Regions from separate parts of the Homo sapiens genome. Here region 2 is linked to region 1. Evidence: fine-mapped expression QTL. A gene starts in region 1. The other region holds a variant in brackets. All regions are shown on one strand. Distances are between the middles of the regions.

Evidence for each region. PIP is the estimated chance that this variant, and not a neighbour inherited with it, causes the effect. A credible set is the group of variants that fine-mapping cannot tell apart.
Region 2: its variant is the best candidate, but not a certain one, in a credible set for the expression of MOB4 in whole blood (INTERVAL, PIP 0.54).

What each region holds. Positions count from the first base shown.
Region 1 is chr2:197,514,102-197,518,495 of GRCh38, reverse strand. MOB4 (MOB family member 4, phocein) reads right to left here and starts at 2,430. Exons shown (of 8, transcript NM_015387.5): 1 at 2,350-2,430. The coding sequence starts at 2,409. The region is part of intron 2 of HSPE1-MOB4 (HSPE1-MOB4 readthrough); the gene reads right to left. RefSeq lists a silencer at 2,372-2,591.
Region 2 is chr2:197,614,085-197,618,478 of GRCh38, reverse strand. RFTN2 (raftlin family member 2) reads left to right here. Exons shown (of 9, transcript NM_144629.3): 6 at 558-679; 7 at 2,500-2,603. Among named protein-coding and RNA genes, the nearest start is that of RFTN2, 59 kb to the left of the region's middle. The variant G/A (reference allele first, on the strand shown) is at 2,067.

The DNA.
Region 1 (4,394 bases):
GAGGTCAGGAGTTCGAGACCAGCCTGGTTAACATGGTGAAACCCAGTTTCTGCAAAAAATTAGCTGGGCGTGGTGGCACGCGCCTGTAATCCCAGCTACTCGGGAGGCTGAGGCAGAAGAATCGCTTGAACTCGGGAGGTGGAGGTTGCAGTGAGCCGAGATCGCACCATTGCACTCCAGCTTGGGGGCAACAAGAGAGAAACTCTGTCTCAAGAAAAAAACAAAAAAAAGAAAGAAAGAAAGAAAAAGAAAAAAGAAAACCAACTATGTGCCTATATTCCAGTCTAACCAACTTTTTTTTTAATGTAGGAAGATACTCCACCTACTCTCCTATAGTTTTTTGTTTGTTTGTTTGAGACCGAGTTTTGCTCTTGTTACCCAGGCTGGAGTGCAATGGCGCGATTCCGGCTCACTGCAACCTCCGCCTCCCGGGTTCAAGCGATTCTCCTGCCTCAGCCTACCGAGTGGCTGGGATTACAGGCGCCCGCCACCACGCCCAGCTAATTTTTTGTATTTTTAGTAGAGACGGGGTTTCACCGTGTTGGCCAGGCTGGTCTTGAACTCCTGAACTCAGATGATCCGCCTGCCTCCACCTCCCAAAGTGCTGGGATTACAGGCGTGAGCCACCGCACCCAGCCCTCTATTATAGTTTTTAATTTTTTTTCTTTTGACCCAATAGGGAAGGAGATACGGTTCTAAATATATCATTTTAGAACAGATCCATTTCACTAAACGAAATTCATGTGATAAACAAGATAGGACAAACTACGGCGTAAGCAGTCTTTTTCATTTTTTATCCTTTTTCTGTTATATTTTATCTAACAACCTTGATCCATGACAATGTGAAAAAAAAAGACAATAAGTTTTCTTCTATGTGACTTACAGCAACATAGCAAGTATGTTACGATATTAAATATTTTATTTTCTAACCTTTCAAAATTAAGAACTTATGAATAAATGAGATGACTCTCAGAATATGAACAGAAAAGTCTACTTCTGAACATAAAAATGTAATCAGAAACAATGTTTCCACAGAATAAGATGTAAAGGTATCTGAGAAAAGAGCATGAGGAAGAAAAGTGTGGAAACGGTAAAAAGCAAGCATATGTAACGGATAAATTTCCAGTAGTATGAAAACAAAACTGTCAGTAGGAATAACTGACAGCTTAATGTGACTCCAAAATAAGACTTTAAAATTTTCTCTGAAATTCAGCACTAGAAGCAGCTTGTTAAAGAGAACAGGTCACCAGTGAATTAAGAATCAGGAGACTATGTATCCTTGGGCAAATCCACTTAATTCTCTTGGGCTTCAGTTTCCTTATCTGTAACATGAATCTGGGGAGGTAATCAATACCTGTATGCCCCCTTCGAAAGGTGTTCTTTCCATAATTCTGTATAAGAAATTAAAATCTATTCTCAGACATACAATCATAGCTCCACGATTGTTTTGTTTCAATTTTCATTTGCATCACTTTTTAACATTTTATAAACACATCTCTTCCGATTTCAGAGCATCTAGTCTATAGCAAGCCATTTCGGCTAGCAATTAATCAGTTCAAGTCTGGATGCCAATTTTATTTATTTATTTTTAATGTGAGGCATCCCATCTTTTCCAAACCCTAAGAAACAATGCCTAATCAAGCACCAATTTACCACACATAATGCCCTACAAAAAAGCTGACAAAATTATAATCAGTTCATTCTCTGACTATGCTTCACGCATATTAGCAAGGAATGACATCTAACAAGTCACAACTTAGTGATGAAAACTTGCTGGACCAGAGAACAGCTCCAGGGAAAGCGGCAGGGAGAGGTGGTCAAAGGGAAACAAGGAGGAGAATATCGGCACCCGGATCCGGCTAGACAAGCTGGATGGCAGGAAACGGGTAGGTACTTCCCAGGCCAGGTAGGAACTGGACGCCGGGTCGAGGTAGGCTGTGTTTACACCCCCTCCCACCTCAGCGGCCCCGACCTTCAGGAAACCCCGGGGGTCTCCACCAGGCTGGTCGCGCCCCTCCAATGCTAGTCAGCTGGGGCTCAGGGGCAAGGCGAGAAGAAGCCGTTGCTGCTGACAGGCTCGCAGCCCAGGGCTTCGGCAGGCAGGTACCACCAGCAGACCCCACCCGCCCCTCACGCCTACCCCTGGGTCGGAGCTCCGCAGGCCTCACGGCGGCCGCCACCGCCTCAGCCAAATTGAGGGGCTGCAGCTCCGGAAGAGCAGGCCGGGCACCAGTGCCCCAGCCCGCCCGCCTGCCGCCTCGGCCCAACCTCCCCGCAGTGGCGGCCAGCTTCCGGGCGCAGCACTGCTCGGCACCTAGTTGCCCGACAAGAAAAGTGCAGACATGGTACCTGCGCCTTGGTGCCCGGCCTGTTCCGCCTCAGCACTGCCGTCCCCTCCGCCATGACCATAGTGCCAGCGTCTAGGCGGCTGGAGTCGGTACCCGGATGTAGGGACGGCAGCCTGCGCGGGGGGCGGGGCAGAGCGGCGCTCTGCGTCTGGGAGGAGGAGCGGCAGCTGACGGAACAGCTGCAGCCTGCGCCGGGAGCCGTCCGGGTAGAAGCGGGCTAGGCGGAGGGAGAGGGCGAACGAGGAACAGCCGGACGGCGTCGGGTGGCTACTGGCAGGGACTGAGGCACCGGAAGGCGGGCGCCACGAGCCTCTTTGCGAGGGCTGCGGGGCGGTTTGAAAGGTCGTGATCGCAGCGACCGCTGCGGCAGTGTGCACGGCTGCGTTGCACGTTGGTATGGGCTCTCGTTAGTTACACGGGAAGAACGAACTTCGTATAGTGGCGACCGTTTCAGTAAACCCACCTGCAAGCAAATACTTAGAGAACCGTAATTCTGTCCCAGAAGCCACCTAAGGAATCAGGGTAGAAAACAGGCCAGCAGTCTTGGCAAATTCTATAGAACCTGCGTGAAATCGACCCAATCTGAAATCAGACGGGGGATTTGAGTGTCAGTGTTATTTACGCCATCCGGCGACTTCAAAGCCAAGGACTTTTTCAATGACAAGTTTGTTTACGTAGATAAAAGACGCAGATGTCAATTATGTGAGATGAAGAGTGGACATCTGGTTTTGTGCGTTAGGCAGACAGATTTAGCTCGTGTTTTTCAAGTCAGAAGCAGGAGGAGGAAATTAGTAGTCCTTGACAGGTGGTGAGGGTTTTACATCTTACAGGATTCCACATTTCCTTTGTTGCAAATTTTAAGTGTTCTCTCTTAAGAAACCACAGCATTTTCGCAAACTTTTTTTCCTGCTTAGAAACCTTGAATCTTTTATCTGGGGTGAGGGAGGCCTTGGGATAGCAGATGGGAAGACAGTTCAAAAAGTAAAAAACGCATACAGTAGCATGATTTCCAAAAGAAGAAAACATCAAGTGTCCCTAGATAGAAGGTGTATTGAGAATGCTGAGGGAAGGGCCATGTAACAGCTTCCAGAAATGGAATTTGAGAGGAGAGGAGAGGTTGAGTGGGTCTCTAGCTGAGTAATTGTCAGTGACTTAGAACTAGGCATTGAAGGGTTTAACAACAGGAAGTTGGTTCTCTCTGGAAGATGTATTGACTGGTAACTCTTCAAGAATAGGGACTTAATTTTGCCCTCCCAGAACCAGCGTCTACATATGAAAAGATTATTCGTTCAACAGATACTCATTAAGCCCCACTATATGGTAGGCACTAATGTACAAGTATGATAAGGCTCAGTCCTTCACTACAAATTGCCTTGACTCCAGCAACAGAGACGTGCAAATCACAAATTCTTATACAGGTTAAGTACCCCTCATCTTAAAGTTTGGGACCAAAACACTTTCAGATTTCTGATTATTTTGGATTTTAGAATATTTGCATATACATAATGAGATTTCTTGGGGATGGAACCTAAGTTTAAATGTGAAATGCATTTGTTTCCTATACACCTTACACACATAGCCTGAAGTTACTTTTATACAATACTTTAAATAGGCCGGGAGCGGTGGCTCACACCTGTAATCCCAGCACTTTGGGAGGCTGAGGGGGGCAGATCACTTGAGGTCAGGAGTTCCAGACCAGCCTGGCCAACATGGTGAAATCCCATCACTACTAAAAATACAAAAATTAGCCAGGCGTGGCGGCAGGCGCCTATAAAACTTCAAATAATTTTGTGCGTGAAACAAAGTTTTGACTGCAACCGGTCACAGAAGGTCAGGTATGGAATTTTCCACCTGTGGCATCATGTGGATGTTCAAAGTTTCAGATTTGGGAGCATTTCAGATTCTGGACTTTTCAGATTATGGATGCTCAACTTGTATTAAATGCAACGAGAGCCTAGGACAAGTGACACGTAAATGTTGCCTCCCTTAGAGAGATGGGTTGGGTCTATGAGATAGCAGAGTCCCAGGGAGGCCTCTTGGTCTATA
Region 2 (4,394 bases), 100 kb before region 1:
GCACTTTGGGAGGCCAAGGCAGGCTGCTGGGAGGTGGAGGTTGTAGCGAGCCGAGATCATGCCACTGCACTCCAGCCTGGGCACCATTGAGCACTGAGTGAACGAGACTCCGTCTGCAATCCCGGCACCTCGGGAGGCCGAGGCTGGCGGATCACTCGCGGTTAGGAGCTGGAGACCAGCCCGGCCAACACAGCGAATCCCCGTCTCCACCAAAAAAATACGAAAACCAGTCAGGCGTGGCGGCGCGCGCCTGCAATCGCAGGCACTCGGCAAGCTGAGGCAGGAGAATCAGGCAGGGAGGTTGCAGTGAGCCGAGATGGCAGCAGTACCGTCCAGCTTCGGCTGGGCATCAGAGGGAGACCGTGGAAAGAGAGGGAGAGGGAGACCGTGGGGAGAGGGAGAGGGAGAGGGAGAGGGGGAGGGGGAGGGGGCAACAAATGTTTTTTAATTGAAATGTTTTTCCTTCAGTTTCCTATATGAGTTATTTAAGGATTTAGATGGTTTTATGAGCCACTTAGTATTTACAACCCTTCTTAATTGTACCCTCTTCCTCACAGGGGAACATTTGCCTAAATCTTTGGAAGGATTTTTTATCTATGAAGAAGAAGGTTCTGGAGTTCCAGGTTCTAGTAGGAAAGGAAATGATGCCATCGTAGTAGAACAATGGACTGTTATTGAGGTGAGCTGCAGTTTTCTGACAATTTAGCTTTACATATATAAATATAATATATAATATATATATATGTTTGGTTTGGGTTTTTCATTTGTTTGTTTGTTTGTTTTTGTTTTTGTTTTTTTGAGTCAGGGCCTTACTCTGTTACCCAGGCTGGAGTGCAGTGGCACCATCACAGCTCACTGCAGCCTCAACTTCCCCTGGCTCAGGTGATTCTCCAACCTCAGCCTCCCAGGTAGCTGGGACTACAGGCCTGCACCACCATACTCATCTAATTTTTTTGTATTTTTTGTAGAGACAGGGTCTCGCCATGTTGCCCAGGCTATATATATTTTATTTTACATGTTAAAGATCTTCAGTGCCTGGCACATGCAGTATCCTTAAACACATATTTGTTTAGTGTTTAGAATCTCATTACAAATGCATGAACAAACTTCTTTCGGATTTGTGAAAAGGTAATTTGCTTTATCCAGTGTTAAATGTTTTTGCAAGATAGAGAAATAATTAACTATGCATAAGCAGCAGTAAGTTCCCAAAAATTTTAAGCCAAAAAACATCGCCTGGCACTGAGCTTCTCTTTACAGCATTCTGTGACAACTGATTGAAAGAAAAAAATTTGGTCACTCAACTAGTGTTTTATCTCCAATCAACCAATGTGACTGAGGTTTTTTTTAACCTTATGAATGACTTTCAAAGGCAAAAATATCCAAAAGATGTTCTCTCTCTCGCCAGGCCAAATATGTACACACAGCATTGTCCTTCACAAACAGAGATGACATTGCTGCTGATGTTGTGCACCCTGAATTCAGATGTCACTGAATGGACTGTCTTTGAGGTGTACACACTGAATTCAGGTATATTCTGTTTTGTGTTTGAGGCCCTCCCTGACAGGCTGTTTCAGGGATACTTTTACCTTTCTGACCTTACACAGGTTAAAGAGACATAGCCCATTTTCAAAGAAACTAGAAAACCCATTGAGTGGGGAAAAAGGATTTGAGGAAAGAGGTAGAGCTCTTAGCAAAACTCAATTCCAAATTAAGAAAAAAGCAGTGAAAAGACTCCCCACACCCAAGCGCCTCTCATCTTCAATACCACTATTGTCACTCTCCACTCTTGTCCTCACTTCCTGGTCCCTAGACCCATGTTTCTGAAATGTGTTCTAGAAACTTCTTGGATCCAAATCCGCTAAGGAACTCGTGTTAAAATGCAGCCTCTGCCTGACACAGTGGCTCACGTCTGTAACCCCAGCACTTTAGGAAGGTGAAATGGGAGGATAACTTGAGCCCGGGAGTTCAAGACCAGCCTGGGCAACATAGTGAGACCCCATCTCTACAAAAAATTTTAAAATTAACCAGGCATAGTGTCATGCACCTGTAGTCCCAGTTACTCAGGC[G/A]GCAGAGGCAGGAGAATAGTTTGAGCCCAGGAGATTGAGGTTAAAGTGAGTTATGACTGTGCCACTGCACCCTAGCCTGGATGTAGGAATGAGACCCTCTCTTTAAAATAAAATAAAATAAAATAAAATAAAATAAAATAAAATGCAGATTCCCAGCTCCCCAACCCCATGTATTAAATTTCGAGAACCACTGCCCTAACAAGACCAAAGGAAGGCCCAAACTTCAGACAACGGGATGGAAACCTCTCTCCATTACTAGTGTTTCTAACTTGGTTCAATTATCAGAAGGAAGCAGAGCAGAACATGAAGCCCAGGAAGGCTGCAGCGGATGAAAGTGAACTCCCCTCATCCTAACACGCATCACCCTTTGTTGTAATTGTGTAGTTGGTTGTCTTTGCCATTAGACTATGAGCTCTTATACTTATTCATGCAGGGATGTGAAATCAAAACAGATTATGGCCCTCTGCTGCACACTCTGGCTGAATTCGGATGGCTTCTGACAAGCGTGTTGCCCACACCTGTATTGAGACATGACAGGTAAGGCAAAAGTATCCTTACATACTATCATTTAATTCTAATATATAACTTCATCTGTTAGATAGTTCAATTCAACAAATATTTGTTTAATGCCTACAGAAAACATTACACTGAGCTTCGAATTTGATTTTATGGACCTTAGAGGTTAGTAAATATAGTCCTTGGCATTATAGATGTATAAGCTGTTAGGCTCTGCAGCACATATCCAAAACTGTTCTCACCCCAGCCCACAGCCAGGTTTAGGACACAGTAGGGTTCCAGAGTGAGCAGGATGGAGGAGCGCTTCTGCCACCTCCCCTCCAGTGTGGTGAGTTAGTTCCCCTTGGCACATGGACTTGGTAGCTGTTTCCATTAAAATAAATGCCTACATTAGAACCAAATGCCAATATTTTGTAAGTACTAACTTTCCTTTTCCTTTTCTCCTTTTACTAACTTTCCTGGAAAGGAAAAATTGAATCTTACTTTTTTGAGAGAGGGAAACAGAGACCAAGTAAGTCATTATGTAAAATGCTTTGCTATTCCTGGGACCCAGAGATGTGTCCTCTGCCCGCTTTGGCATCCAGGAAATGACTGACTGCTAAGGCTGTCCTGCCTGGGCAGGTGACTACCTGCAGAGGACAGCACAGTACCAACTAGGCCTTCCCTTTTAGCAGAGTCAATTATGGTTCAACATTCTGAGTGATTTGCAGGTGTGACTAAGGAAAGCAACTTCCCCTTCCTTAGTCTAACCCACTTCACTCACCTTTTCTGGCCTTCCCGGTTTAGCAACTTAGCCCTGTCCAGTATCCCAGTACCCCACAACATTTAAAAACCTTTGATTGGCATGGCTTTATCTGAAAAGCCACACCTTCTTCGGGTAGGGAAAGGAATTAAGGTGGATATAAAGTAAAGAAACTCAAGTTTAAAGAACAAAAAAGGAATGTTTGAAGTAAGCAAAGCAATTAATCTACTTTTCTTCCCAGAGCTCTATAGTAACTGTTCTCAAATTGAGTGATGACTCCTTGAAGCATGATTTCCCAGCCTTTTGTACTCTGTGACATATCTGTCAAATAACAGAATAGTAATAATTCTCAAGATTCAGTCTTCACAAAACAGGAGAATTCCATGACACCCCCGCCCTCAACCTTGCAGGATGTGTGACAGGGGTGTGGCTTGTTTGTTCACCCTCTGCATGCTCAAACCACTTACAGGAGGGGAAGCACACAGATGGGCAGGTGCAGGAGCTGGGGTGAGTGCTGTGGGGCTCCGGCCCCATGGTAGCGTCTAGGGGTGGGTGCCTGTGACTCCCAAAGCCCAAGTAGGCATGTGTTACAGTGATCTTTTAGTTTTGCCATCTGCAGAGGGCTTAAGTGTTAACCAGCTCAGTGTCCTCTCAGTACCTAGGTCCTTGTCCAGCGTCCAGGAAGAACCAAGTTGCACAGGGAATTGAGGACAGTGATTGTGCAGGTTTTATTGAGGGTAGAGGTGGGATGCAGTGGGAAGATGATCATCTTCCGGAGTTTGACCGTCCAGCAGCCGATCTCCTCTCCAACCATCTCCAGCCAAACTCTTCTCAGCATTCAGATGCTCCTTCTCTTATCTCTGCCACGCCATTCTGAATTTTAAATTTTAAAAATCAAATTTAAAAGGCAAAAAGTCAATCAATAAATAAAAATATGTGGAAGCTGTACATGGTTTCTGGCCCTGAAGGATCTTGTGAGCTGGTTAAGCTTACGTTTCATATGTACAAAACAAGGGACTTACATTCTGGTCAGGGCAGATCAAGCTTATGTATTGTGTAATATAATACAG